Homo sapiens: one gene and its partners. The protein of the gene in region 2 purifies or fractionates together with the protein of the main gene of each other region. This does not show direct contact. Each region holds a gene or a part of one and is shown on either strand. Other genes may lie near its edges. The genes, in order: EPC2, PLAC1, MBTD1 and EPC1.

Region 1 (7,195 bases), on a different chromosome or scaffold from region 2:
CCAACTACTTGAGAGGCTGAGGCAGGAGAATCACTTGAACCCGGGAGGCGAAGGTTGCAGTGAGCTGAGATCGCGCCACTGCACTCCAGCCTGGCGACAGAGCTAGACTCGGTAATAAATTAAAAAAAAAAAAAAAAAAAAAAAAAAAGTCTGCAAGGCGCGGCCAGGCGCAGTGGCTCACACCTGTAATCCCAGAAATTTGGGAGGCCGAGGCGGGTGATCACCTGAGGTCAGGAGTCTGAGACCAGCCTGGCCAATATGGTGAAACCCCGACTCTACTAAAAATACAAAAATTAGCTGGGCGAGGTAGTGGGCGCCTATAATCTCAGCTGCTCGGGAGGCTGAGGCAGGAAAATCACCTGAACCTGGTAGGCGGAGGTTGCAGTGAGCCGAGATCGCGCCATTGCAATCAAGCCTGGGCGACAAGAGCTAAACTCCATCTCAAAAAACAAATAAACAAAAAATTGCAACACGAGTTAAGCACTTTTATTTTTAATGAAGCATGAAAAAATTACTCTAAGTTATCTTACTAAATTAAAATACCAAAACATATGTGGCATACTAAGGACCACGTATGTTGGTGATTGCAAAAAGTAATATACCTTCCAGGAGTTAACTGTTCACTCTAGAACAGATTTCCTTTTTTTTGTTGTTGGGGGGGACGGAGTCTCGCTCTGTCCCCCAGGCTGGAGTGCAGTGGCACGATCTCTGCTCACTGCAACCTCTTTCTCCCGGGTTCAAGCAATTCTTCTGCCTCAGCCTCCCGAGTAGCTGGTATTACAGGCGCGCACCACCAGGCCCGGCTAATTTTTGTATTTTTAGTGGAGACGGAGTTTCACCATACTGGCCAGGCTGGTCTCGAACTCCTGACCTCATGATCCGCCCACCTCGGCCTTCCAAAGTGCTGGGATTACAGGCGTGACCCACCGTGCCCGGCCTAGAACAGATTTGACTCAAGTTCTAAAATAATAGGATCAAAGTAATTACACACAATACTGGTACTTTTAAGGCCATCTTTCTTTGGATCAAGACCCACAAAATAGCAAAAATATCCAAAGTTGTGCTTATTAGGGTTCAATGTAATTAACTATTGTATATAATATGATTTTATTTTAATTTTCCTTCCCATGGAAAACTGAGTCGTTAGAAACAAATTAAAAAAAAAAGTTCTCACATACAAAAAAAAAAGTTCTCACAGCTCTAAACCTTAGGGATAAATGCTGGGTTTTGATTATAAACATATTTATATATATGCACACACAAATATATATGTGTATGTGCGTGTATATATATCTATTACATATTTGTGTGTGTACACACACAGTTAAGTTCATCCCGATGCTACGGCCATATGCATTTTCTACTGAAAATGTAAGACTTTCAAGTAACTATACATCAAAGAGAAATGTGATTAAATAAGAGCAAAGTAGTATTAACAGGGTAACATAATGAGGTCAGAACTCAACCAGCCAATCGAAGGCATAAAAGCATTTCCTGCAATATTAATAGTCAAAAGAGAAAACCAATCACTGAAACCTCGAGCTTCCTTTTGACAGTCACTGAAGCAAGAGAACCAATCCACACACACCCGAGGTTGACAATAAGGCGGGACTGTAGGTTCATTGAAGAAATTCTTGAGGGTGCAGTTACTATGAACTTCGCACGCAAGTAACACCACTCGAGTCATAAACACTCTCTGTCAAGCCAGATGAAATCCAACCGTCTGCAAAATTTAACCCATCGGAGGAAAAGCAGCAATTTTCCCAAAAGGTGCTGTATTATCAAAATTACAACTGCCAATTTAGATGCACTAGGTCCTCAACTTCTAAGGACCACCTCGCAATGACAATTCTCGAGGACAACGCAACGCCGGCGGCTCGCTTCCGGGCATCCCCGGCTCCTCTCTAACGTTGCGCACGGAGCACGGCCGTCCAGGCGGAGCAGGCAGAGCCCGTCCGCCCCGCGCCCGGCTCGGGTCGGCAGAACTGGCCGGCGGGCGGCCCTCGGACGCTACGACCCGCTCGGTAGTCGTGGCCCCCGCCCTCCCCCGCCGCAGTGCTGCACCGCCTCATCCCGCTGCACCTTCGCGGGCGGGGGAGCCAGGATGATTACATTGCTGGGAGGAAGATGTTTGTTTTGAAAGCACCCTTCCACAGTCATTTCAAAGAGAACTCAATACAAAGCCAAAGTTAAAAGTGGAAAAAATAATAATCTTGCCTAGCCAAATAATACCACGCCATTAATTAGCCCCGCGCCTGAGAGAGGGAGGTGGAAAGGTAAACAGAGACCGTACGCCAAGAGCGGCCAGCGCATCCCCTGCGCCATTCCCGGCCGCCGCTTACGGCAAGGCCCCCTTACGGCAGCGTAAGCAGCGCTGCGAGCTAATCACAACACTGGGACGCAACAACATGGCGGCCGCGGGCGGGCGCTACGCCGGCCGAGAGGGTTTACGCTACTCCGCCGGCGTAGAGTCCCGTGCGTTAGAGCGGCAGCGGCGCCCTCCAGCGAGCGTAAAGCGCTCTGTGAATGGCGAGGCCCGACTGACAAAGGGGAGGGGGGAGGAGGGAAGGGGGGGTAATAAACACTCGAGTCCCTACCGATTCCTCCTCCTTCTCCATCCCGGTGGGCATCTGGGGCACGGCCCGGTTGATGGAGACGCAGTCGTTGAGATCAGGCATGTCCTTGCCGCGGTAGATAGGCAGCGGCTTGGCGGCGTCCAGCGCCCGCGCTCGGAAGGAGAGTTTACTCATTGTCTCCCCGCCTTACAGGAACAGCCCGGGCGGCGGCGGCGGGGCGGGCGGGGAGGGGGGGAGGACTCCCGCCGCCTCCTCCACCTCCTTCCTCAGTGCAGCGCGGCCGGCCCGCTCCTCCTCCTCCTCACTGCCCCCGGCCACAGCATGGGCGCCCACCCCGCCCGAAAACAGCCCCCCGCGCCCGCGGCCGCCTCCACACACTAGATCCGCCGCTCGCCCGCCCGATCCGCTCCCTGCGCCATGGCCAACATGGCGGACATTACCACAGCGGCGGCGAGCGATCCCGGCAGCCCGCGCGAGAGCGCGCCCCCGTCGCGGGAACGCGCCTCGCCCTCTCCCTCCCTCCCTCCTTCCTCTCCCTTCCCCTCCCTCGCCTGCCCACCCACTCTCTCCGCGGCGCTGCCGGCCCGCGGGAGCGTGCTCGGTCTCGGTCCGCTCCGGGGAGAGGGGGCGGGGGCGGCGCCCCTCCGCTCGCTGGCCGGTGCTTTCGCTGTGTGGCAGGTGCCAGGTGCGCAAGTTCGCCCGCGCCCGGGAGCGTGCGCCTCTCCCGCCGCCGCCCGGTCACCCCTCTCGCTGGGTGTCCCGGAGGAAGGCGCCGGGCAAAGACGGCTGCGCCGAGCAGCGCGTGTGTGCAGAAGTCCGGGAGCGGGAAGGGAAAATGTCGACCCGGACCCCACCAGCCATCACCCAAGCCTGTACTTGGACAGCGCTATCCCCAAGGCGCCCTGTGCGCAAGCTAATTCGCATCCTCCGAGGCGCACATCCCCGAGAGGTGCAAGAGGTCTCTCCCATCAGTCCCATCAGTCCGTTCGGAGGACTGGACCGCGCTGCTGGTGCCAGCCCTCTTCTACGCCCTCCCCTCCGTACCTGTCCGAAAGAGCTCTCCAAGGTGCAGCAGCGCGTTCATCCTCGCTTTGCAGTGAGGGTTCATGGTTTGAGGCTGCCAGATGCAACAAGTGAACTTAGGTTCCCTGTCACCCAAACTTCGGTACAGCTGTTTAGTGGATGGTAGGTATTTTTCTGAGTTCAAAAATAGTAGCTTTCCTAAAAGTTCAGCTTCTAAAAATTTAGCCAAGGCAGCACACATTTGCGAAGTAGCAGATGTGTGTCAAATGTGGGGTGCTGTGGAAGACTCGAAGAAATCTGAGAAAAGGTTCCTGCCTCAGAGAGCTTTCACCTTAATGGGATGCCAGGATGGCTGGAAAGATGAGTAACAGAGACGTAAATAGTTGAAGAAAATGACAGCTGGAAAGATAAGTGACAACCGAAAAAAAAGTGTAAATATTTTAAGAAAACAATACAAGAGATGACACAGGCAGTAAGTAGCACATGATTAATTACCAAACGAGATCTAGGCAATAATTGTGAGAGTTCAGAGAAAGGAAAGGAGGCATGACTGCAGCCTAAACTGGTTAGAGAAAGTTCTCAAGAGGAGGGAAAATCAAGGTGACTCAAATAAGTACTAGCTATTGTTGACATCAACCTGGTTTAGCCAAGAGGCTCTTGGTTAGTCTTTAAGCATTACACATTTCTCACAAAACCGTACAAAGAGAGTTTTTAACACATTTTACCATTTTCTAATAATCGATCATACTCTAACTCAGAGAAAGTCAGATGATTTCCTAAAGACCAACAGTGAAAAAATTGATTCCTACTGTCATTTCTATGTGACAATAAAACTATATCTCTTCCTCTATTACGTCCTTCTTCCCCTCCTCCACTTCCTCCCCTCCCCCTTTTTCCTCCTGTTCCTCTTCCCCTTTTCTCTCTGCAGTCTCCTCCTTTGAAGGCAGAATGGTGGATATAGTCTTCATGGTAGTGTCCAAATAGTCTAACCAGTCTGTCGCAGCAAAACTCCGAGTATTGTTTAGTGGGGCTTGAGTGTTTTTCATCCACTTTGTTGTTGGAAGCAATGGAGTTGCTGTGACTCATTTCTTGTAAGCAGTACCTTCCTCAAGCTTATGGGCATGTCCTGCTCTCTAAGTGCTACCCCTGGAACAGTTCCAATCCTCTGGAAGCAAGAACAAGAAGTTCTTGGGAGGGGGTCAGCACTGGGTTCAAGCCTGAAAGGGAAGAAAAAAGCAATAGTTGAAGAAATGAGTCATCCAGAGCTTTCATCTGGATGCCCAGCCCTCCTCAGGTTCAGAAAGGATAGCTTTCTTCTAGTCCCTATGTTTAGTTTTACTGTTTCTCTCAGAAAAGGAAATATCAAGTATGTGTAATATACCATCCATTGTAGTAACATGTTATATATATTATCTCAACTAGTTGAATTCCACTTAATTCTTATTATAATTTTATGAAAAAATATAATTTTACCAATAAGAAAACTGAGCATCAGATAATTTGCCAAATTTCAATTCCAACAACTTGCAGAACTGGGCTCAAATTCAGGTCTGACCTGACTCCAAAACTCTGGTTTTCTCAGTGGTGCTACCCTGCTATCCAAGCTCTTCAGCTTATTGACCAGTCAGCATTCTAAAGCTGCTAATTCAAAATTAGTTACTAAGACCTTCCAACCAACGGCCAAGGGAGCGCATAAGCCAGAGCCTAAAGTTGCAGTAGACCAAGGAGGGCAGGAACAACATCTGTCTGTCAATCACTGTATCCCCAGTTCCATGCCTCACATATGGCAGGCATCTAAAGTATATTTGTTGACTGATATTCCATGAAGAAATTCACTGATACTGACCCCATGCCACTCTAGTTTATAGTTCACATACCTCACTGGCCTGTCACCTGACCTAGCTATTGCTGCCAATATTTGTTCTTACTGTGGCCTACCCTGTTGTCCAGCTTTGTACCTTTGTGCATAGAGATTTTAGAACCAATTAATGTTATTCAAAAACACCTTTTTGAAACCTGGAATTTATAGGAAGGGATTTTTGCTGTTGTGGTTGTTTCTTTGTTGTTCTTTTACTTTGACCATGTAAAAGATTTCTTCCCCAAATCTCCATTTTCTTCTCACCCTGTAGGCAATGATTATAGAGCTGGGAATAAAACCATTTAAGGCAAATAACACAATATACTTTTCAACGGAGACACAGCCTGTGTTTTCTTGGCTTCCAATTCAGTGCCCAAACCGGAATGCCACTGTTCACTTTTGGAAAGTAACTTTTATTTGTATATAAATATTACTTTTCATAAAGTTTATTTCTGATTGATTTGTTGAATACTCATATAATTGTTAGTGCTAAAAGCAAAAAATATCTTCTTATAAAATAAAAAATTCTCTCATGAAATATTTTTATCAAGACCTGCCTCAAATGGGTGTGCAGCCTAATAGCCTATTTTAATTTCCACATACAATGCGCTAAGTATAGTCATTCTAAAATCAGTCCACTTCAGATATGCTCTAGACCAATTCCAAATGACATGCATTTAGCCCAGCAAGCATAATATATAAGCACCCAAGAATTAAAACCAGTTTAAAGCCATATCAAAATAAAATCACTGTCTAAATGTAGTCTAAATTAGAATAAATGTCAAATAACTGTTAGAATTAGGATTACATTCCAGTGTCCATCTCCCAGTACTATAATCAAGGCAGGCAGCTTCCAAATAATGGACAAATTACTTTTTGAAAGGAATCTTAAAACTAGTAAACACAGTTGCTATTCAACTATTTCAGAGTTTTGCAAATGTCACGTTCTTTCTAATTGGCTCCTGGTTTCAGCAAAACCATTTGAAAGTTAATTGGGTTAGTATGTGAACTGCATCTCCACCCCTCCCCCTTATGTTCCCAGGAATGAGCCTAGTACTAATAAAGCTTCGTTGTTTTCCATATGTAATCTGAATGTGGGGTCTGCATTCATTACAATCAACTGGAATCAGTTCTGTGGTTCCAGTGCCCTTTTCTGAGGCAGCTCTGCATCTTTGAGACATAGGGACAGAGACTACACTGAGAGGTGACCTGCCAAACATCTACTTCTACCTCTGCATTTGCCACCGTGGGAATAGCAGATGGTAAATAAAAATTTGTGACTGTGGCTCAGTTTCTTAGCAGCATCGCTCCTCTCAGACCTGGTTGGAATCACAGGGTGCCACCTTGTGTATAAGCTGACGATTTACTTCCCAGCTCCACAAAGGATCCAAATAGACTCCAAAATAATCAGCCTGAAAGCTCTGCATTTTGGTAACTAAAAAAAAAAGAAACAGATTTGAAAACACACAGCTCCAGAGGGTCCACAACACCCAATTTTGAATTGCACTGACAGCCTGTCTCATTTGTTGCCCCACCCGGACCGTAAAACACAACCAGTGCTCCACATTTGGAATAGATTGACGCTGCTCACTCAGGCTTTTGGATGGGGATAAGAGAAATAAGTAAAGCTCTTGTGATGAAGCTAACAAATCTGACTTGGACAGTTATGTGTGTCCAAACAGCAAGCAAGCTATGTAGATGTAATTTCAGGATTTTTTTTTTCTTTCTTTTTTTTTTT
Region 2 (7,424 bases):
TATTATCACAGCTAAGAAAATAAACAATAATTCCTAATATAATCTAATTTCCAATCCATATTCAAATTGCCCCAATATTCCCCAAATGTCTTTCATAGCTTTGTAAAATCCAGAATCCAAAACCAAGGTTTGTGTATTGCATCTACTTATGTCCCTTTAGTGTCGTTTAATCTAGAACAGTGCATGCTCCTAATTTTTGTGTGTGACACTGAATTTTTGAAGAGTTCAGGCTAGTTGTCTTGTAGAATATCTCATATTCTGAATTTGTCTGTTTTCTTATGGTATGTGTGTTTTTAAAAAAATAAAAAGATTTAATAGCAATAATAATAAAAGAAACCAGGCTCTGTTTTATATAAACAGCAACCTTAAAATGAGTATGCTATCCCAATATGCCTAGTAGCAGCATTGCCCAGTCTTCTGGTTCCCATATCAGATTCTTTAATCATCCCGCTGTCCTTCTTTCTCCTTATTCAGCCAGTTCCCAAGTCTGTGAATTTGCCCTTTGACATGCCTAATGGCTTAATGCCTTCTCTAGTCCCACCATGCCCCTACCCTGGATCAGGCCTTCAATACCTCAGCCCTAAAGTATTGCAACTGCCTCCTAATTGACCCCTCTAGTGCCAGAATCGTCCCCTGAACACCTGCTGCACTGTGAATATAGAAAACACACTGCCTTTTCTACGTCACTCCTATCTGGAAAACCATCAATGGCTATTTCCTATTTCTCATCTTTCTTCAGTCAGAGCCAGCTTTGAATGTAGCCTTCAACACCAGACAGAGACCGATCTCTACCTAAATCCTAGTGCTGCCATTACTTGCTGAGTGGCCTTAGAGAAGTCACTAGGCTTATCTGGCCTTCCATTTTCTTATCTGTAAATTGGAAATAACAGTTGTGCCTACCTCTCAAGTTTGACCAGCATTTGCCCACAGAGCTCCCACCTTTTCTAGGGGTCACTCCAAGCCTCATCCTTTCTTTAAGTCTCAGCTGAAGCCTTGCCTCCTCCAGGAGGACTTCTTATTCACAGCAGCACCCCCTCTCTGAATTTCCATAGCACTTGTGGTCTATAGGGAAGAATTTAGCAGATACTAGTCTTATTGCCCACTCATATTTACATTTTCCTCTTTTTTTCTTTTCTTTTTTGAGATGCGGTTGTGCTCTGTCCCCCAGGCTGGAGTGCAGTGGAGTGATGATGGCTCACTGCAGCTTCGATCTCCTGGGCTCAAGTGATCCTCCCATCTCAGCCTCCTGAGTAGCTAGGACCACAGGTGTGCCCCACCAAGCCTGGATATTTTATTTTTAGTTTTTGTAGAGACGGTGTCTCCCTACATTGCTCAGGCTGGTCTTGAACTCCTGGGCTTAAGTAATCCTCCTGCCTCAGCTTCCCGAAGTGTTGGGATTACAGAAATGAACCACCATGCCCAGCCTTTTTTTTTTCTTTTTTAACATTTGTAGACATTTTCATCTTATCTGCTCATTTGGATGGCCAGGGCCCCTTGAGAGCAGGAGTAGATCTACCCATTGTTTCTCCTAGAGCCTGTTAGAGAGCTAGTGCTATGCTGAGCATCCAGCAGCTCCGAGCTGTCACTTGACCGTGAGAAGATGCTTTGTTCATCTTTAGAGTCCTCCTTTAACTCTGATTGTCTCTAACTCCAGTGAGACAGGAAGGACCAAGGGTTGCGACCATCATCCAAATAATCATAGTAATTCCACCTATTTATAGAGCACCAATTATGTATCCAGCACCTTGAACATACGGATGCTCCTTGACTTATGATGGGGCTATGTCCCGATAAAACCATCACAAATCAAAAATATCATAAATCAAAAATGCATTCAGTACCCTAATAAGCCCGTCATAATGTCAAAAAATTGCAAGCCAAACCATTGCAAGTTGGGGACTGTCTGTATATTCTATTTGATGCCAATTAAGCAGATAAAGAAACAGAAGATCAGAGAGGATAAGCAACTTGCCCAGTGTCACTCAGCTATTAACTGCTGAAGCTGGAACTTGAACCCAAGTTTGTTTAAATACAGAGCCCATATTTGTTCCCTGCTGCCTCTGTAGTAACAGTGATCAGTATATTGATAGAAAGAAGGACAAGTTATTAGAGCTGCTGGGATTAGAATGCAATTTATTCTACTACTCTTTTTATAAATGAGAATGTCCACCCTGAGAGTAACATTGTGCTACCAGTGGTGGTGTAGTTTCTGTGAATCTGTTTCCTCTCAGAATCAAGGTCCAGAGACATGCCTCTCTGTGGTCATGGGAGAGAATGAGACAAAGCAGCTCACAATGGATTTAGGGTCCCTGTCTCTTTCTCAAAGAGTCTGAAACTGATCATCTGGGTTAATAGGAACACACAGCTAAAAGCAATGATAAAGATAAGTAGGAGAGTAAAGGAAGAGAGAATGATGAGATGGCAAGTAAACAGGGGAAAGAATAGGCAGTTAGACTGGGAAATATGTGTAGGGGAATCCCACATGAATCCCTAAAAAATACCCTGTGCAGTTGGGGAGTGGTGCATGTGTGAGTGTGTGTGTGTGTGAATGTATGATATTGATTTTAGATCTATGTGTGTGTGTGTTCAATCTTTAGATTTAAATAAAGAACAGACCAAATTCAGAGTCTAACTGCCTCCTTCTCAGCAGCCACTTCATCACCCCCATGTCACATTTCCCAGCTGGAGGGCAATAATTGCATGGCCAGATCTGGCCCCATCTGGGAAACACCAGGGTCTTCCTGAATCGTCATACACCATGCTGGCTGCCAAGGCATAAGGTGACCTAAGCGAAGCTTTCACACAGGCCATGTGCACAGTCATAAAATCTCGAGAGAATGTGGCAACAGAGACAGACTTGACTTACCTGCCAAATTTCCAAAGGGAAGAAGGAACTTGCTGTGTCTGTATTTGCCCCCAGGATTGGAAAAATGTATCTCAGTCACTGGAACTGAAGAGGGGTGGCCTTTACCTTCATAGGAGAGTCACTCTTTATACAAATCCTTCTGATGGTCTGATATATGTGTGTGTCTTTATATAAATAGAGCTATATACTGACTTTGCCAGATTGCATCAGCTACCTGCTTAACATTTTACTCTGGTGCTTTCGAAACAACACTCTGAAAGTCAGAATAATATGTGGCCTCTGCAGCATTTCCCAGTTTGGCATTTTGTTTACAGAGTAAAAGAAAGCTACTCACCCTTGAGATCATCAGTGATTGAATGATACCTACTGTCATGTGTTAGAAGCCATGTCACCTTGACAGAACTCATTCACAGGAAGAAGGGCGGGGAGGAGGGTTACAACATGGTGGTGGTAATTCTTAGAGAAATCAAGCAGTGAGCTGGCCACTTGTAGTGCTTGCTGTTGCCAAGGCAGTCTTTCGTGTCTTTACTCAGTAAACACATATCAGGCATAGGGAATACAAAAACAAATAATATATGTCCCTTCCCACCAGGAATCCAGCCTTTGTCCCCAGTTCTCTCAAGGAGCCCACTGCCAAATGAGAGGTAAGCCTCTTCAGGAAGAATGCTCAGGGAGAATGAGAACACATGGACCCAGGGAGGGGAAAACACACACTGTGGCCTCTTGGGGGGCTGTGGCGGGTGGAAAGCATCAGGAAAAATAGCTGATGCATGCTGGGCTTAATATGTAGGTGATGGGTTGATCGATGCAGCAAACCACCATGGCACATGTTTACTTACATAACAAACCTGCACATCCTGCACATGTACCCCGGAACTTAAAATTTAAAAAAAAAAGAAAGAATTTTTAGGGATTACTGGTCAGTATGGTTGCCTGAGCTGTTGCAGGAAGCTCCTCCCCTGCTCAAAACACATTGTTTTTTCAAAAATTTAAATATGTTGTAGAGAGCAAAAGCAAAAATAAACATATTCTAGTGCCAGAAATGAAGAGGGAGCTCAAAGCCACAGCAGCAACTACACAGCCCACAGAAGAACCAAAGGTGGTCACATATCCTGGGCGAAGGGTTTGAATGGCAGGGTGGGAACGGGAGTGGAATCTGAGCTCCTATGGAAAGTCAGTAGTGGTAAGTGCTGGCCCATAAGTGGGGATGGGGGAAAAAACACAGTTCAGAAGTGTACTGGCCACTTTGAGCTGAGAGTAGGCAGTCACATAACCCAAAGTACATAAGACTCCAAGGTAAAACAATTCCTGCCAAATAACAGTAATTACACTAGCCAAGTGCTTAATTATGTGCCAGATGCTGTCCTAAGTGCTTGGCTTATATTATTTAGGTTGATGCAAAAGTAATTGCGGTTTTTGCCGTTGAAATTAGTGGCAAAAACTGCAATCATTTTCCACCAACCTAATAACTCATTTGTAGAACAGCCCTGATTTCCAGATACTGAAACTGAAGAACAGAGAGATTAAATAACTTACCTAAGGTCACACAGGTACTAAGTGGCAGAGCCAGAATTCAAACCCAGGTGGTATATAGCACATGAATCTGTGTTTGTATCTATGACTCAGGATGAATGCATAGCTAGAACTTACTAAGTCCGTGAGGAAATAAACCACCATAAGACCAGTGCAACCAATGGAAGAATTCATACCTTAAGAACCACAGCTAATAAGAAAATCTAAAAGGGATTTTAAAATAAGTATGCTGAAAATGTTCAAAGATTTTTTTTTTTTTTTTGAGACAGAGTATTGCTCTATCACCCAGGCTGGAGTGCAATGGTGCGATCTCAGCTCACTGCAACCTCCGCCTCCTGGGTTCAAGCGATTCTTCTGCCTCAGCCTCCTGAGTAGCTGGGATTACAGGTGCCTGCCATCATGCCCAGCTAATTTTTGTATTTTTTAGTAGAGATAGGATTTCATCATGTTGGCCAGGCTGGTCTTGAACTCCTGACCTCGGGTGATCCACCCGCCTCAGCCTCCCAAAGTGCTGGGATTACAGGCGTGAGCCACCATGCCTGGCCGAAAGAGGTTTTAAAAAGGAATAGAAACTAGAAGGCAAGAATAGAATAGTTTGAAAAATACAGGTGAATGCAAAAAAGAACCGAAATATAGGCATTGCAATGGAAAAAAGAACACTCAACAGAGGGATTAAACAACAAACTAAACACAGTTGATGAGAGAATGAGTGAACCAGAAGATAGAGCTGAGGAAATTATCCAGATGCAGAGCAGAGGAATAAAGAGATGAAAAATAAGAAAGGAAAGCTAAGCTACATGGAGGACAGAATGAGAAGTTCCAGTAAGTGTCCAGTTGGAGTTCCAGAAGGAGGGAAGAGAGAGAATGAGAAGAGGCAGTATTTGAAAGATAACAGAGGATATTTTCTGGAGTTGTGGGAAACCATGAGTCCTCTAACTTCCTGTCTTAGTATCAGCCTCTGGAGCCTGCAGGTCTGTAGCTAGTCCTCATGAGAGGAGTCAGCCTCTTAGCTCTGCCACTGCTGTGATAATAGCTCAAGAGCACCAAGTTGTTTATATAAACCAATGTTTCTCAATGTTGTTTTAAAAAAATTATCATCCCCTTCATCCCAGGAGCCTTTTTAGACGTCTTTTTTTTTTCTAATTTCTCCCCCCATTAAATTTTAATACCAAAGAGATGCTGTGTATCTGTGTATGTATTGTATGTGTACCTGTGCTTTGGGCAAGCATCCTATAGGATGTCCCCATCACCTGGAAGGAAGGGTGTTCTACTTCTTTTTGCCTCTTCCTTGGCATGGCTTTCTACTCATTCTTCAGGTGTCAGGTTAAATGCCACATCCTGAATCTCCCAGAATAGATCAGGCCGCTATGTTATATGCTCTCCTTTAAGGTACTAATGTAAAGTATAAGTAAATAATGATCTGCGTAATTACTTATTCAGCAGGGGCCATGTCTCTCTCGCGTTCTGCTGTGTCCCTGGGGCTCAGCACACTGGCGGGCAGTTGGTAGATGCTCAAATAGCTGAATAAATGAATGAGCACCATGAGTGGCATTACCTGAGCAGATGAGAGGAAAATCACAGCCCTGGGAGGAGCCTTGGAAAGCTATTTTAACTCTTCCCCAGTTTATGGGCAGAAGTATTGTGTAACTACTTCTGAAAGAGCAAAGTATGTGCTTTTCTTAAAACCACACTACAGTAGTTCCTTTTTCCTTTAAATAGTTTTCATTATTTGGAAGCAAAAGGTGGTCAGGAAGCAGTTGAGAATAGAGACAGACCTCTTTTTGAAAATACGTAAAAATAACATCTAAAATCATTTCCTATTTTAGAAGAGCCAGGGAAACTCCCAGCTTCAAAGAAACCCTGTAGTAAATTCTTTTGTTACAAGGAATAATGGACCAAATTGAGTGAAGATTCTCTTTTTACCTACTCCCCAACAAAAAAAGACAGGTTGAAATTTGTTATGGTCACAATGGTGTGCTCATACCAACTTACAAGAGACAAATTAATTTTGAGAGCTGAGTTGTTAAATTCAGCCATTATTAGAAATTAAATTATATAACCTTGCAATAAAATAAATTATATGAAAAACAAAGCTTGGCTAGGTGTGGTGGCTCATGCCTGTAATCCCAACACTTTAGGAGGCTGAGGTGGGAGGATCACTCAAGCTGAGGAGTTCCAGACCAGCCTGGGCAACATAGGGAGACCATATCTCTACAAAACATAATTTTTAAAAAATTAGCTGGGTGTGGTGCCACACACCTGTGGTCCCAGCTGAGGCAGGAGGATCGTTTGAGCCCAGGAGGTCAAGGCTGCAGTGAGCTATGATCATGCCACTGCACTCCAGCCTGGGTGACAGAATGAGACCCTGTCTCAAAAAACAAAACCAAAAAAACCCACAAAGCTAATACATATGCGAAACTCATCCCTTTCTAATTATTTGACTACACTTTGCTATTATCCATGCTCTTGAGGTTACTTATATCTTTTATATCAGTATACTGGAAATACTATATAATGTTCTGCCACTGGACATCTCTTCCCAACTCCACATTCTGTGACATCAAGTTGTGTAGCCTGAAGTTGGCCATGGTAGGACTATTTATGTCAGGGAAACTAGCAAATGCTACAAAGCAGTGCTTAATCTATTGTTGTGTTGATTGTCTTGACCAAGAGTTGAGAACTTTCCCCACAGTCTGTTTTTGTGTAGCCCACAAGCAAAGGATGATTTTTACATTTTTAAAGGGTTGTAAAAAAAATGACTATGTGGCTACAAAGCCTGAAATGCTTAGCCAGGCGCAGTGGCTCATGCCTGTAATCTCAGCACTTTGGGAAGCTGAAGCAGGTGGATTGCTCGAGCCCAGGAGTTCGAGACTAGCCTGCTCAACATGATAAAACCTCATCTCTACAAAATAATAAAAAGTATCCAGGCATAGTGGTGCACGACTGTAGTCCCAACTACTTGGGAGGCTGAGGCAGGAGAATTGCTTGAACTTGGGAGGCAGAGTTTGCAATGAGCCGAGATCAT
Region 3 (7,027 bases), on a different chromosome or scaffold from region 2:
TTTTTTTACCTGCAAATTTAGGATTTCTCTTCTTGCTTTGCTGGAACCCACAATAAAAGGTGAAAAGGAAATAATTCCCATTTGAACAAACCCTGAATATGAGATAGGATGAAGTGATACAATAAGAGGGGTGCTGGCAGTGAGGTTGATGTCACAATTCTGCCATTGAGTAGCTCCATGGCCCTTGTTGGACAAGATCCTGTGCCTCCATTTTCTCATGGCAGTTGAAGGGTTAGTCTAGTATCAGCATAATCCAATAGAAGTTTCTGCAATGATGGAAATTTCCTATATCTTTGCTGTCCAGTTACGGTAGCCACTAGCCACATGTGGTTGTTGAGCACTTGAAATGTAACTAGTGGAACTAAAAATTGAAGAACTCAATTTTTAATTTTGCTGTTTTAGGCAATGTAAATTTAAGTAGCCAAATGTCTGGCATACTGGACATACACACATAGAACACTGTTTTCTAAGCATAACTAATCATTATAATCACTTCTTGGAGGCTCTTGTTAAAATACTAAACTTCTCTCCTATAACTTATTTAGTAGGTCTGCAGTGGGTCCTGGGAATGTGTTTTTAATGTATACCCCAGAAAGTTTATCAGGTTGGTTAGGGAAACACTCCATTAGGAGATTTCTGAGGTCCCTTCGAGTTCTCACTTTAGCACTGATAATTTAGAATTTAGTCTAGTAGAAGTGAGCTCTGGACAAAGTCAGCAAGCTACCTCTCTGAACTGCGATCTTAGGTGAGTTGTGTAACCTCTTTGAAAGCTTCACTTTCCTCATCTGAAATACAGGGTGAACATCAGCCCTGCCTCCTGTAGTTTCTGTAAACCTCCACTCAGATGTTATGCCCGCTGTTTAAAAAAAGTAAGCTGCTATAAAAGATGAGACAAGTCATAAGATAAAATGTTAAGATGTGTTCCCAGGCTTTCCTTCTTTTTCCTTTTTCACTATGTTTAATTCCTACTACTAGTCTTTTAAAACTGGTTGTATATAATACTCATTAGTTTGTTCAACGTTGTGGCCCAATTATTTGGCCACCGTTTGCAGTCTTAATTGTAGGACAGGAATGTTAAGTCTAATACTTCTTTGTATTTCTGGTGCTAAGCATAGTGATTTGTATATATCGTTCAATAAATATTGGTTAATATTAACCAGGTGTGTTGGCTAACGCCTGTAATCCCAATACTTTGAGAGCCCAGGACAGGCAGATTGCTTGAACCCAGGAGTTCAAGATCAGCCTGGGCAACATGGCGAAACCCTGTCTCTACAAAAAAAAATTACAAAAATTAGGTGTGGTGGCACACCCCTGTAGTCCCAGCTACTCGGGGGCAGAGGTGGGAGGATTGCTTGAGTCTGGTGGGAGACCCAGGTTGAAGTGAGCCATGATTGTGCCACTGGACTCCAGCCTGGGCGACAGAGTGAGACTCCGTCTCAAAAAAAAAAAAAGGAAAAAAAAAAGGTTATCATCATCTATTACTTTAAGACTTCTAAGCTTTAAAATTTGCTAGAGATTATTTTATACACCAGAGAAGTAGCCCCCTTGTGTATCTGTATGTGTTTAACCCATCTTTGTTTAATTATTAACACCCTGTAGTTACTATTGTTCAGTGATTTTATATCTTCTGAGCAACCAGTTCCAAATATATTTTTTAAAGGTAAACACCAAGAGAATGTTATCATTTCAGATCAAGTGTTTTTAGGTTATATCAGATCAATATGATACTGAATAAGCTGTTGAATTTACTTTCTCTTTTCTTTTTTTTTTTGAGATGGAGTCTTGCTCTGTTGCCCAGGCTGGAGTGCAGTGGCATGAGCTCGGCTCACTGCAGTCTCCGCCTCCCGGGTTCAAGTGATTCTTCTGCCTCAGCCTCCCGAGTGGCTGGGACTACAGGCAAATGCCACCACACCCAGTTCATTTTTGTATTTTTAGTAGAGGTGGGGTTTCATCATATTGGCCAGGCTGGTGTCAAACTCCTGACCTTGTGATCTGCCCGCCTCAGCCTCCCAAAGTGCTGGGATTACAGGCGTGAGCCACTGCGCCTGGCCCGTCTCTATGTTAACATACTAATAAATGATCTTGTTTGATCATTCAGACCACATTCGCCCTACAGACCCAGCTTGAGTATGAATTCTATTATTGGGGTAGAATTGATAGCTGATAATGATCTCAGGGAATCTCTAGGCCACTGCATGTTTCAGACTTAATTTTGATATGGTCATCTTATTTTTAATTAGCTTTCCAGGTTTGTACTTAAGGATTCATAGCTTTCTTCGGAAGAACTGAAAGCCTATTCATGTGAATTTTTTTATTTTATCATACATCCTTCCTGTGTGGTAAGTGATGTTTTTCTTATTTAGAAGAGAGGGAAACTGAGACCCAAGTAATTGTTACATCCGAAGTCATAACAGTGATAGGTCTAGAAGTTGAACCCAAAGAGGTAGAAATTTGTATTTCTTGTAGATCAAAGAATCACTTCCTTTTGTTCACTGTTGCTTTAAATCTTAAAATATTGCTATGTAGAATATTGTCCTCTCCTATCATTCTCCTGGGTACTTTTCCATTTCTTTAGATGGGTTATTCAGAATATTATTGCTTTTGGTTTCCTCTTGATTGTATCATTGACATGAATTTATTCTTGCTTGCACATTGAATTTGTGGGAAATAAAAACTCAGTAATCCCAAATCCTTACCATTTATGTTCCTCGTAACAGTAAGCTTAGAAAGAAAGAAGGCATTTCTCTTTACACTGATGAGTTTTATCACTATACCAGAATGTGCTTTCATCCTCATAGTATAATAGAATGAAAAAGAGGCCTGCAGGAGCTAAATAGCTCTTGAGCTCCTACCAAGTTCAGTCATTGTAGAGTATGTATTAATCTCTGTTTACTACTTTGTGATCTCATGCATACAACATTCAAATTTAAGATTCTAGAAAATATTTGCTCCATAGCTAAATATAAAAATTTGAAAATTATGTGAGCCACTGCTCCCAGTGGGTTTGGATAATGAAGAATTGGTTGACTTCTGATGAGTTTATTCATATCTGGTGAGTTTACTCATATTGAAATTACACTATTATTAATATTACTTGGCTCCATGTTTATTGACACCTGCATTTAAGATTTCAAGTGTTTTCTGTCATTTCTCCCAGAGATGTTTAGTTTTGTTGGAACTTTTGTTTGGTTATACCAATAAGTTAATGACTATGCTTTTTAATTCCCTTGTAGATTTCATAGGGAGGATGGTTTACCTAAGTGACAGTTACAGTAGGACAATGAAGTTCTGTTGTGATTTGTGATCTCTTCTTTAATTTTGTCACTATAAAAACCTTTTATTTTTTATTATAGAAGTACACCTATAATGTTTTAAAAAAGAAAAATATTGAAAAGTTAGATTCATCTTCCCATGCCACTTCTACCCTGCTAAAAGTTTAGCTACTCCTAAGGTCTTTCTTAGTGCACATAAAAACAAACATACATATATTGATCTGTGTATATGCCAGTGTATATTGTCTCTTTGAATAAAAAGTGAGTCATATTGTGATATATTTTATTATACTATATATTGTGATTTATTTTTTCCACTCAGTATTTTACCTGTTGCTCATGATTCCCCTGCTGATTGTAAGTTTGTCTCCAGTTTTTCATTATTATTACATTAGCAAACATCCTTCTACATAGGTTCTTGTGTCCTTGTATGTATTATGTATGAGTATTTCTGAAGGACAGATTCCTAAAAATGGAATTACCTAGTCAAAAGGCATAGCCATTTTAAGTTTTCATATGTAATGTCAAATTGCCTTCCGGAAAGATAGTGTAAGGTTACCTTCCTACCAAGTGTATATGAGCACTGTTTTTCCCACATGTATTTACTGATACCAGATATCATCAATCTCTCAATATATACCAACTTAATTTTTTAATGTACTGTATACTTCATATAAATTAGCTTTTATTTTTATCAAAGTAATACATGCACTTGATAGTACAATAATTAAACAATGCTAAAAGTATTCCAAAAAAAATGGTCCTTGTCCCAATTCAGCTCTGATGAGACAACTGCTTTCATTCTTTTAGCTTTCTCATCTAGTATCTATCTCTCTAATTCTAAAGCTTAGGCTTATATTATTTATTTAGTATATGAATTTTAGACATTAGTGACTTTATAGTGGACAGGGAGTTAGAACATACACCCAAATATAAAGCAAGGTTTACCTACCTACAATCATTCCATCTCCCTACATTCAAGACCTTAGTCATCTAATATGATTTGCAGTTTTTTGGGGTTTTGTTTTGTTGTTTTGTTTTTTTTTGAGACAGAGTCTCACTCTGTCGCCCAGACTGGAGTGCAGTAGCTCAATCTTGGCTCTCTGCAACCTTCGCCTCCCGGGTTCAAGTGATTCTTCTGCCTCAGCCTCCCTGGTAGCTGGACTACAGGTGCCACCACCACACATGGCTGATTTTTGTATTTTTAGTAGAGATGGGGTTTTACCATATTGGCCAGGCTGGTCTGGAACTCCTGGTGGATTACTCCTCAAGTAATCCACCCACCCTTGGTCTCCCAAAGTGCTAGGATTACAGGTGTGAGCCACTGCACCTGGCCTCGGTTTTATTTTGAAGAGCAAAATGTTCATGAAGGCACGTTACCTGAAACATATTTATTTGATGCTTGTTTTGTATGCTTACAGAGGCTAGCTGACAGAACCAGTATTGGGGAGGGGGGAGAAAGAAGGTTAAAATTTAAAACGTTTTAAGATAGTCCCATGATTCATATTATTAGTGTTCATGGTGGTTATATGATCTTGGGCAAGTTGCTTAGCCTATTTGGGCCACTGCTTCCTCCTGTAAAATGAGAGTGACACTCATAAGGTTTAAATGCGCTGCTACAGATTTAAGTGCTGAATATGCCTGACACATACTAAGCATATTACAAATATTATAATAATAACCAAATCAGATCAGTAACAAAAATAGTCCAACATGGTTGGGTGCAGTGGCTCATGCCTGTAATCCCAACACTTTGGGAGGCCGAAGTGGGCCAATCACTTGAGGCCAGGAGTTCGAGATCAGCCTGGCCAACATGGCGAAACCCTGTCTCTACCAAAAATACAAAAATTACCCAGGTGTTGTGGCACACACTGTAATCCCAGCTTCTCGGGAGACTGAGGCATGAGAATCGCTTGAACCTGGGAGGCAGAGGTTACAATAAGCCAAGATCATGCCACTGCACTGCAGCTTGAATGACAGAGCAAGTCCAATATTAGGTTATTGTAGAATTTACAAATAAACTCCTATAGGACGAAATGTGTTTAAGAGTTCAACTCACAAATTTAGTTTATTTCTCTGCCTATAAATAGAGATTTGTAGATTCTTATAGGTAGAGAAATAAACCAAATTCCAACTGCTCCTTATGATCATTCCTCTAGGTGTTAAGAGTGAGAGAGGGAAGGCTTGACAAATTTACTGAAAGAGGTATGGGAGTGTGAAAGCTTTAGACAAGGTACAAAGATCCACTCTCAGAAAGAGAAAATCTGAAAAAAGCTCCAAAACATTGATCATAGGTTTGGAGTTTGATAGTTCACAGCTCTATGTATGGAGAAGAGCTTAAAGGTAAGCAGTACCAGAATTGGTAGCTTTAAATTATAAGCATTGCCTCATAAGGGAAACATGAAGACTTGGAGACATGTCAGTGAAGACTTGGAAACATGGCAGTGAAGAAGAAGAAAGAAGAAAAAATTCTTCAGGAAAAGAAAAAAACTGAACTTAGAGAAGAGGGTGTTCTTGAAGTAGGAGCTCTGCCTATGAAATGAACAGAAATAGAAAAGAGCAGGCCACATCCATACAGAACTGTAAGAAAAAACAAACAGGAAATGTGAATCAGCATTTCAACTGATGAAAATCTACCCCCATCAAAAAAAGCAGGAAAAAATTGACACAATGCTCCAAGTGAAATTAAACATCCTCAAACCAATGTTTGGAGATTTGAAAAATAAAATTAAGAAATATTCTGAAACAAATACAAAGAACAAAAAGCATTAAGAAATGAACACAAAGTAGATTAAACAGAAAAATAGAAGATAAAATCATAACCAATAATGAAGTTTTAACATTCCCACATTTCAAATTCAAATTTAATAAAAAGTCTTGAAGAAAAGCAGGAAAACAGGATAATTGAGATGAGATTTTTGTTTTGAAAATTGACCAAGTTGAAATGGGAGATGGATCCAAAGTCTACTGTATATAATTGGTGTCCTTCAAGAAGAGAAAATATTTAAAACTATAATCCAAGAAAACTTTCTGGAAGTGAAAAGAGATCTGAATCTATACCACAGAAGTTCATACCAGAAGGCACACTCAAAGATATTTCCTAGTAAAGCTGTATGACTGTAAAGATGCAAAGAATTCTCAGGGTCTCCAGGCAAAGACGTGACATAGAGGCAAGAGAATTAGACCAGTGTCAGATTTCTCAAAAGCAACATAACAAAGCAAGACAGTGGAGCAGCATGAGGAAAGTGACTGCTAGCCAAGGATTTTATATCCAGCTAACTGTTGTCCAGGTATTAGGGCTGCAGAACAACAGTTTGAACATGCAGGAACTCAGGGAATACTGTACTCGTTTACCCCTCCTGAGGACACTCGAAAAGGATGACTTTCATCTAAAAGATATTTGGGACATTTCCTACAAAAAGACTGTGACAATAAGTATTTCAGATATCTTTTTGAACTAAGATTAAAACCAATAGTAGGGACCTAGAGAATAGTACATAAACATTATACATTCTGACAAAGCAGAAAGAATGCAACTAAAATATAATGGGATGGAAAATAAAAGGAAAAACTAAGGCCATGTGTGGTGGCTCACACCTGTAATCCCAGCACTTTGGGAGGCTTAGGTGGGTGGATTACTTGAGCCCAGGACTTCTAGACCAGCCTGGGCAACATAGTGAGACCCAGTCTCTACAAAAAAAAAAAAAAAAGTGTTTAATTAGCCAGGCATGGTGGCTCATGCCTGTAGTCCCAAC
Region 4 (7,027 bases), on a different chromosome or scaffold from region 2:
TGGTTTTCCTGCCTCAGCCTCCCGAGTAGCAGGAATTACAGGCACCCACCACCACGTCTGGCTAATTTTTGTATTTTTAATAGAAACGTGTTTTGCCATGTTGGCCAGGCTGGTCTTGAACTCCTGATCTGAGGTGATCTCAGGCAATCTGCCTGCCTCGGCCTCCCAAAGTGCTGGGATTACAGGCATGACCCACTGTGCCTGGCCTGACTCTTCTGTTTTAATTAGCCCAACACTGCCAGTTTTTCTGCTGGCATCAGACTACATCAGAGTTTCTTTGGTTAAGTGCCAGAGGAAGTAGTCTGGTTTGTATGTGGGGGCCATGCTGTATGAAAATTAAAAATTATCTTTAAAATCACAATTACTACTGAATGAGGTAAGATGCTTAACCTATGAATAAAGTGGCAATGCGGGCACTCACGCCGTAAGAGGACCAACACATTCAACTTCCCCTACTCCAGGCTCACTCTGGAGAATATATTCTTTCAGTAAATTGTATTTAGAATTCTGTATAACATTTGAGCTGCTACATTTTCTCTTTTTTTTTTTTGAGATGGAGTCTCACTCTGTCGCCCAGGCTGGAATGCAATGGCACAATCTCGGCTCACTGCAACCTCTGACTCCCAGGTTCAAGCCATTCTCCCTGCCTCAGCTTCCTGAGTAGCTGGGATTACAGGCGCCTGCCATCATGCCCAGCTAATTTTTGTATTTTTTAGTAGAGACCAGGTTTCGCCATATTAGCCAGGCTAGTGTGGAACTCCTGACCTCAGGTGATCTGCCCGCCTCGGCCTCCCAAAGTACTGGGATTACAGGCATGAGCCACCACACTTGGCCTAAATTTTGTTTTTTTTTTCTTCAGGGGCCTGGAGTTGGATTAAGTGAAATGCACTTATGATATGGCTGCATTGTAATATACTTTATAAAGTATGCAGAGAAAAGCTTTAGGTCTCTGGAATATTCACAAATATAAATGAACAGTGTTACCCTACAGTAGTCTGTAGGTATCTATCCTCTAAGTATTAGAAGATCTAGCAAAATTTAAGGAGAAATTGAAAATAATTAAGACAACAGGAAAAAAAATAGATAAACTCATTTTTAAAAAGTAGTATTGAGGCTGGGTGCAGTGGCTCACCCCTGTAACCCTAGCACTTTGGGAGGCCAAGGCAGGAGGATCACTTGAGGCCAGGAGTTCAAGACTAGCCTGGGCAACATAGACCCTATCTCTTACAAAAAATTAGCCAGTCATGGTGGCATACGCCTGCAGTCCTAGCTACCCAGGAGGCTGAGGTTGGGGGATCACTGAGCCTGGGAAGTTGAGGCTGCAGTGAGCCATGACTGTGCCACTATACTCCAGTCTGGGTGACAGAGAAAGATCCTGTCTTAAATAAATAAATAAATAGTTGTATCGCATATATGGAGGAAAGAAATGATAAAGAAGAAAAATTACAAGGTTACTAATGATTTCTTTTCAGCTAAGCTTTTGGTAATGCTCATCTTTTAATGTTCTTTGGGCAAACACAAATCAAACAATTTTTACAACTGTTATTAATATGCCTAAAGCAGTATAGCAAAACATTTTTCATAAAAAAAGAGCATTATAAAATCCTTAAATATTTAGGATAGTTATACACTTCAACTTCTCTATTTAAGGGGTGGAGAAGATGGAGATTGATGGAACATGCCTATTTTCTGAGAAGTCTTAAAGAATTTTTACAGCTTAGAAAGCTTAATTATCAGGGTAACCTATGACAGGTTTATACTGTTAAAACCTCTATACTAACACTATAAGTAAGTCTTTATTGAAAAGTTCTTTATTTTGATTCTTAAGACTATAAAAGTAGAGAGAAACTGGCTTTTGGTGATAAAGACAGTAACATTAATGGGATTATAAATAAGCTGTTAGTCCCTAAAATAGCTTTATCTTCCAGCTGATTTCTGAATTGTGATTATTTTTCTCATGAGCTGAAAGACTTCCATTTCATAGAAGTACAGCTGACCCTTGAATAACATGGGTTTGAACTGCCTGGGTCTACTTATTTGTAAATTATCTTCTGCCTCTGTCACCTCTCAGATGACAAGACCAACCCCTCCTCCCCCTCAATGTGAAGATGACAAGGATAAAGACCTTTATGATGATCCACTTACACTTAATGATTAGTAAATGTATTTTCTCTCCTTTATGAATTTCTTTTTTTTTTGAAACAGGGTTTTGCTTTGCTGTGAAGCCTGGAATGCAGTGGCATGATCTTGGCTCACTGCAGCCTTGACCTTCTGGGCTCCTACCACCTCAGTCTCCTGAGTAGCTGAGACTACAGGCGCTCACCACCACACCCAGTGAATTTCTGCATTTTTTGTAGAGATGAGGTTTCACCATGTTGCCCAGGCTGGTCCTGAACTCCTGGGCTCAAGCAATCTGCCCACTTTAGCCTCCCAAAGTGCTGGGATTACAGGCATGAGCCACCATGCCTGGCTCTATAAATTTCTTAATAACATGTTCTTTTTCCTAGCTTATTTTAAGAATGAAGTACAGAATACATATAACATACAAAACATGTATGTTTGGACTGTTTATGTTAATGGACTAATGGACTGTTTATGTTATTGGTAATTCTGGTCAGGAGCAGACTATTAGTCAAGTTTTTGGGGAGTCAAAAGTTATACATGAATTTTGGACTGCAATTGGGGGGTGCCCCTAACCCTCATGTTGTTCAGGGGTCAACTGTACTTTTTTTTAACCACCAAGTAAATTAGTTTACGGAACATTTTCTGGAGGTCTTTAAGAATCAGAGCAAATGTTCATATTTATGAAGCAACTTAACTATAACCCTACAGGGTGAATTAGGGGAATGATAAATATCTTCATAGTCCTCAGATTACCTTTACAAAAATCAGTAGTAACATAATTCAATGGTGAATTTCTACAATATATAGGCTTCAAATAACACAAACTTATGCTTTAAAACAGACAGCTAAGATTATAGGAATATTTTAAATAAACAGCATTTATTTTAGACACATTTCAAATAGAAGCCACAATAATCAAATAGATATTATCTGAAAACGTTTCAAAAATATTAACCCTTTAAATGTTCTTCTCTGAAAAATTAGTTTATCTTTAACAAATTATTCTGAATTATTGTGTCAACATATAAGGTTATGCATATATATTCACTTGCTGGTCTCTATGTTAAAGCAAACTAGGTAAAAACTAGAGAAATATCTGAACATAAAATGGTTAACAATTTACGGCCCATTTTCTTCTCATATTATTGAAAAATATGATAAATCTTGTGGTTCACGGACTATATCCAGGAAACAAATGTCACATATTAAATAGAAATAAACCATCTTTGTATGCAGGTATGTTTAAATGAAGACACACACATACAAACTCCTATAGCAACAGGATTCAAATAAATACTTAGACCAAGATTTTTTTTTTAACTGTTTAAGAGAAAAGGACTTTAAGCCATAAATGTAACAGACCACATAGTCGAACAAATGGGAAATGGTTGGACCTGACATTTCTATAGAAACGTACATCATTAACAGTCAACATACCAAAGTGTGCTGAACCACTGCTACTTTTACTTTGCGTAGAGGTACTGCATGTCTGGGTCCCAGGTTGTGCTGTTCCTGTTCGGTTTATACTCCTATATAATTTTCTACAGGAGAGTTCATCATTGTCACTGTCATGTAGGGATGGTGTCCGAGGCCTAAAATGCCGCCATCTACATGATTTGATATTGACTAGTATCTGACTGAGGTCTTTAGAGAAAGATTTGTCCGAGGTATTTGTTTCTGAGGTATTGGCAAACTGATTGACTGGAGAATGTTGTGGTGAGGAAAGCATTTCCAAATCCAGATGGTGAAACACACTGTCATAGTCTGAATGAGCTCTGTCCAGTAAGACCCTATTAAAAAATCAGACAAGAAACAGTTATTTAAAATAGCTATTCAAAGATTATATATTAAAGCTTTTTCTTTTTACCCCCAACTGCCAAAAGGCCAACTCATACTGAATATTTAAAAGCTTTAAAGTTGATTATTTTAGTGTTTGGTTTTTATAGGCTACAACCTCAATTTCTAATAAAAGTTCTTTTAACAAATTGTTTTTCAACTAAAGATTTTCACTTCCATTACAAAGCACCAAAATGAATGCTTTATAAAATGTTGCGAACACATTTATTCTATATTTAAGCAAAAACTTCATTCCTTTTGGGGGGAAAGGGAGAAGAGAGAAGAAAAGCAACAAAAAACATAGTATACCATTAACATTTCTTATAGACAAAATATTTGAGATCCACTACTCTAGAGGATATATTCTTATGTTATTGATTGATTGACTGATTGATTGAGAGAGATGGAGTTTTACTCTGTCACCCAGACTGGAGTGCAATGGTGCGATCTTGGCTCACTGCAACCTCCGCCCCAGGGTTCAAGTGATTCTCCTGCCTCAGCCTCCCGAGTAGCTGAGATTACAGGCGCCTGCCACCATGCCCAGCTAATTTTTGTGTTTTTAGTGGAGACAGTGTTTCCCCATGTTGGCCAGGCTGGTCTCAAACTCTTGACCTCAAGTGATCCACCCACCTTGGCCTCCCAAAGTGCTGGGATTACAGGTGTGAGCCACCATGCCTGGCCTCTTATGTTATTTATATAAACATTATAAATGGCTCCAAGTCAAAATAATAACATTGATTAATGTTAGTAATAGAATAAAATATAGCTAACGTAGAGAATTTTCACTGCTCCTGATGTCAGCAGTGATGGAAAAAAACGGACTAAATAAAATGTATTTTAGTGCCTAGATAATTCTTAACCAATGTTTAAATAATAAAAAAAAACCCTCTGCAATTAAGAGTTGAAGATGAAAAAAATATATGTATAAGCCATTAGTTTATCATAAATATACGCTTGGGTTTCTTCCTGAAAAAGCACCTTGATACTATTATTTGCTTTCCCTTTTAATTTTCCCCGCACATTATACATTAACGTCTCTCCATTCCTTGAGTTTATGTGTTTTGCTATTTGTTTCCTGTCCCCATACAAGCAACTCGCATAAAGGCATTTAGAGTATGAAGGAAGGAATTCTACAAGGTTTAAACAAAGGAAGAACAATTAGATCCTAACAAACTGGGATGTCAAGATCAGGTTATGCATGGATCCTTTTCACTGTCAGGTTAAACCCATTATACTAGCTAGTGTGAAACAACTTTTTTGCAGTTTCTTTAACTTAATACACTGTGTGCAATCAGGATTTACACTTGTCTTCATCTGTTGCCCTTTCTCACAATTCTACCCCTTGATAATTTATCTGAGGTTTTCCACCTTGGGGAGAAAAGCAGGTCCACTAGGGACCCAATAGAGTTATGTCAAAAACTATGGATGTGTAAGAACCAGGCAGCACAGCAACAAAAATATTTTAGTCAACAGATCAGTTAAGAATAGCAAATAGGAACTAATGAGTTGTTCAGAGGGATTACCTGACTTTAAAAGTTAGATTCAATCACCCTAATGCCTAAAATATCCTTCTGCTAGGAATACAGAAATACCTTACCTTCCACCGCGCCCAACCCGTCTTCGTGCAAATCCAATACACCTTTGGGGTACGGTGAGAGTAGTTAAGCAGTATCTATATCGCACATCCCCTAATCCTCCATCTTTAGGACTAGTCCAAGGCCAGTTGCCAGTTTGGTCTAAGTGAGGCTTAAAAAAAAAAATCCAAATTATTTAATTTTGTCAGTTAAAGGTAAATAGTTTGTTATTTACAAAGACACTCTGAAACTTACAGCATAGTACTGACAGCCTGCTTTCCTACGGAAAGCAAAAGGACCATCAGGATCATTGTCTTCCTCAGCTTCCGAAGAGCCAGACAAAACCTTTAAATGAAATAAAGAAAGTAGGTCAGATACGTGACTTCCTACATCCCTCCTCAATGTTCATAGAGAATTGTATTTGTACCTGGGAGAGAGGTTCTTCGTCTGAGCTGGGAAAGTCATACTGATTCAGATCTTTAGCATTGAAGACTGGCAGTGCAGCAGGACTCGTCTGTTGGGGAGTAGCAGCGGCAGACGATGGTAAGACTTTGGGCTTCTTTTCATATTTCCGTTTCGGTCGGATAAGATCGGCTTTATCTTGCTGCAACAAAGACATGAATTAATTATACACCAGAAACCATGTTCAACAAATTTGCAGTTTTGGGGGAAATTTTAAAAAGAAGTTTATTGCTATAATGAGGGCATTCATATTCATAAGAGACACAACACTCTATGTTTGGCCATCTTATAGTGTAAAGTCTAGAGAAGTTGGCCTCCATGAAAGCATAAATTTGTCCTACAATCTAAACATAATCACACAAATGATTCTGTTTCAATTAAAAGGAGAGAACAGAAGTTCTCCAACTTCTGAAGTCTTACAACTGCAATTAGTGTATTTACTGCTGGCTCCTCCCATTTTCTTAATTTTCTATGAAAATTCTAGAAGAGAATTTTTTTTTAAAGGGGATTGTCTAATCCTTATTCTCAACAAATAATAAATATAGGACAAATAATAATGAAAATGTCTTCGTATACACAGAAAGCAAACTACAGAAAACTGTTAACATAGTAGAAAACAAAGCCATAATGCTGAGTGAGGGGTTATACAAATAAAGAGTAGTAAGGATTTGTGGGCTGAACAATGTAAGCTTTCTGAAATGGTGACTTTTGAACAGTTTTAAAGGATAAAGATATGAAATCATTAAATAGGGGAAATGCAGGATAAAATATACAGGCAACAGTAACTGAGCTGATGGAACACAGCATGTTCGAAACATGTATTGCAGATGATGGCAAAGGTTGGGAGAAGTATGAATTTGATACGTAGGCAATAGGTAAGGTAAAGTAGTGGCAAAAATTGTATTTGTTGGAAAGAAAAAGATCACGGCAAATACCACGGTTATGTAAATACGCTAAATATTCATGTTACATTTTATGTAGTTTATGACATTATGGTTTTTTGGGAAAACTACGGTTTTCCCAAACCATAA

What was found.
Region 1: the proteins of PLAC1 (region 2) and EPC2 purify together in Homo sapiens (affinity purification with mass spectrometry; 3 studies listed by BioGRID and IntAct, with this or other methods). This does not show direct contact.
Region 3: the proteins of PLAC1 (region 2) and MBTD1 purify together in Homo sapiens (affinity purification with mass spectrometry; 3 studies listed by BioGRID and IntAct, with this or other methods). This does not show direct contact.
Region 4: the proteins of PLAC1 (region 2) and EPC1 purify together in Homo sapiens (affinity purification with mass spectrometry; 3 studies listed by BioGRID and IntAct, with this or other methods). This does not show direct contact.

Annotation. Positions count from the first base shown.
Region 1 is NC_000002.12:148,640,573-148,647,767, reverse strand, and holds the start of EPC2 (enhancer of polycomb homolog 2), read right to left. Parts: upstream 3,018-7,195; 5' UTR 2,751-3,017; coding exon 2,598-2,750; intron 1-2,597. UniProt on the Homo sapiens protein: May play a role in transcription or DNA repair.
Region 2 is NC_000023.11:134,655,462-134,662,885, forward strand, and holds the start of PLAC1 (placenta-specific protein 1 precursor), read right to left. Parts: upstream 3,011-7,424; 5' UTR 2,867-3,010; intron 1-2,866. UniProt on the Homo sapiens protein: May play a role in placental development.
Region 3 is NC_000017.11:51,250,025-51,257,051, reverse strand, and holds part of MBTD1 (MBT domain-containing protein 1), read left to right. Parts: intron 1-7,027. UniProt on the Homo sapiens protein: Chromatin reader component of the NuA4 histone acetyltransferase complex, a multiprotein complex involved in transcriptional activation of select genes principally by acetylation of nucleosomal histones H4 and H2A.
Region 4 is NC_000010.11:32,281,137-32,288,163, forward strand, and holds part of EPC1 (enhancer of polycomb homolog 1), read right to left. Parts: intron 6,139-7,027; coding exon 5,962-6,138; intron 5,880-5,961; coding exon 5,790-5,879; intron 5,707-5,789; coding exon 5,558-5,706; intron 3,915-5,557; coding exon 3,562-3,914; coding exon of another isoform or gene 3,449-3,561; exon of another isoform or gene 2,985-3,448; intron 1-2,984. UniProt on the Homo sapiens protein: Component of the NuA4 histone acetyltransferase (HAT) complex, a multiprotein complex involved in transcriptional activation of select genes principally by acetylation of nucleosomal histones H4 and H2A.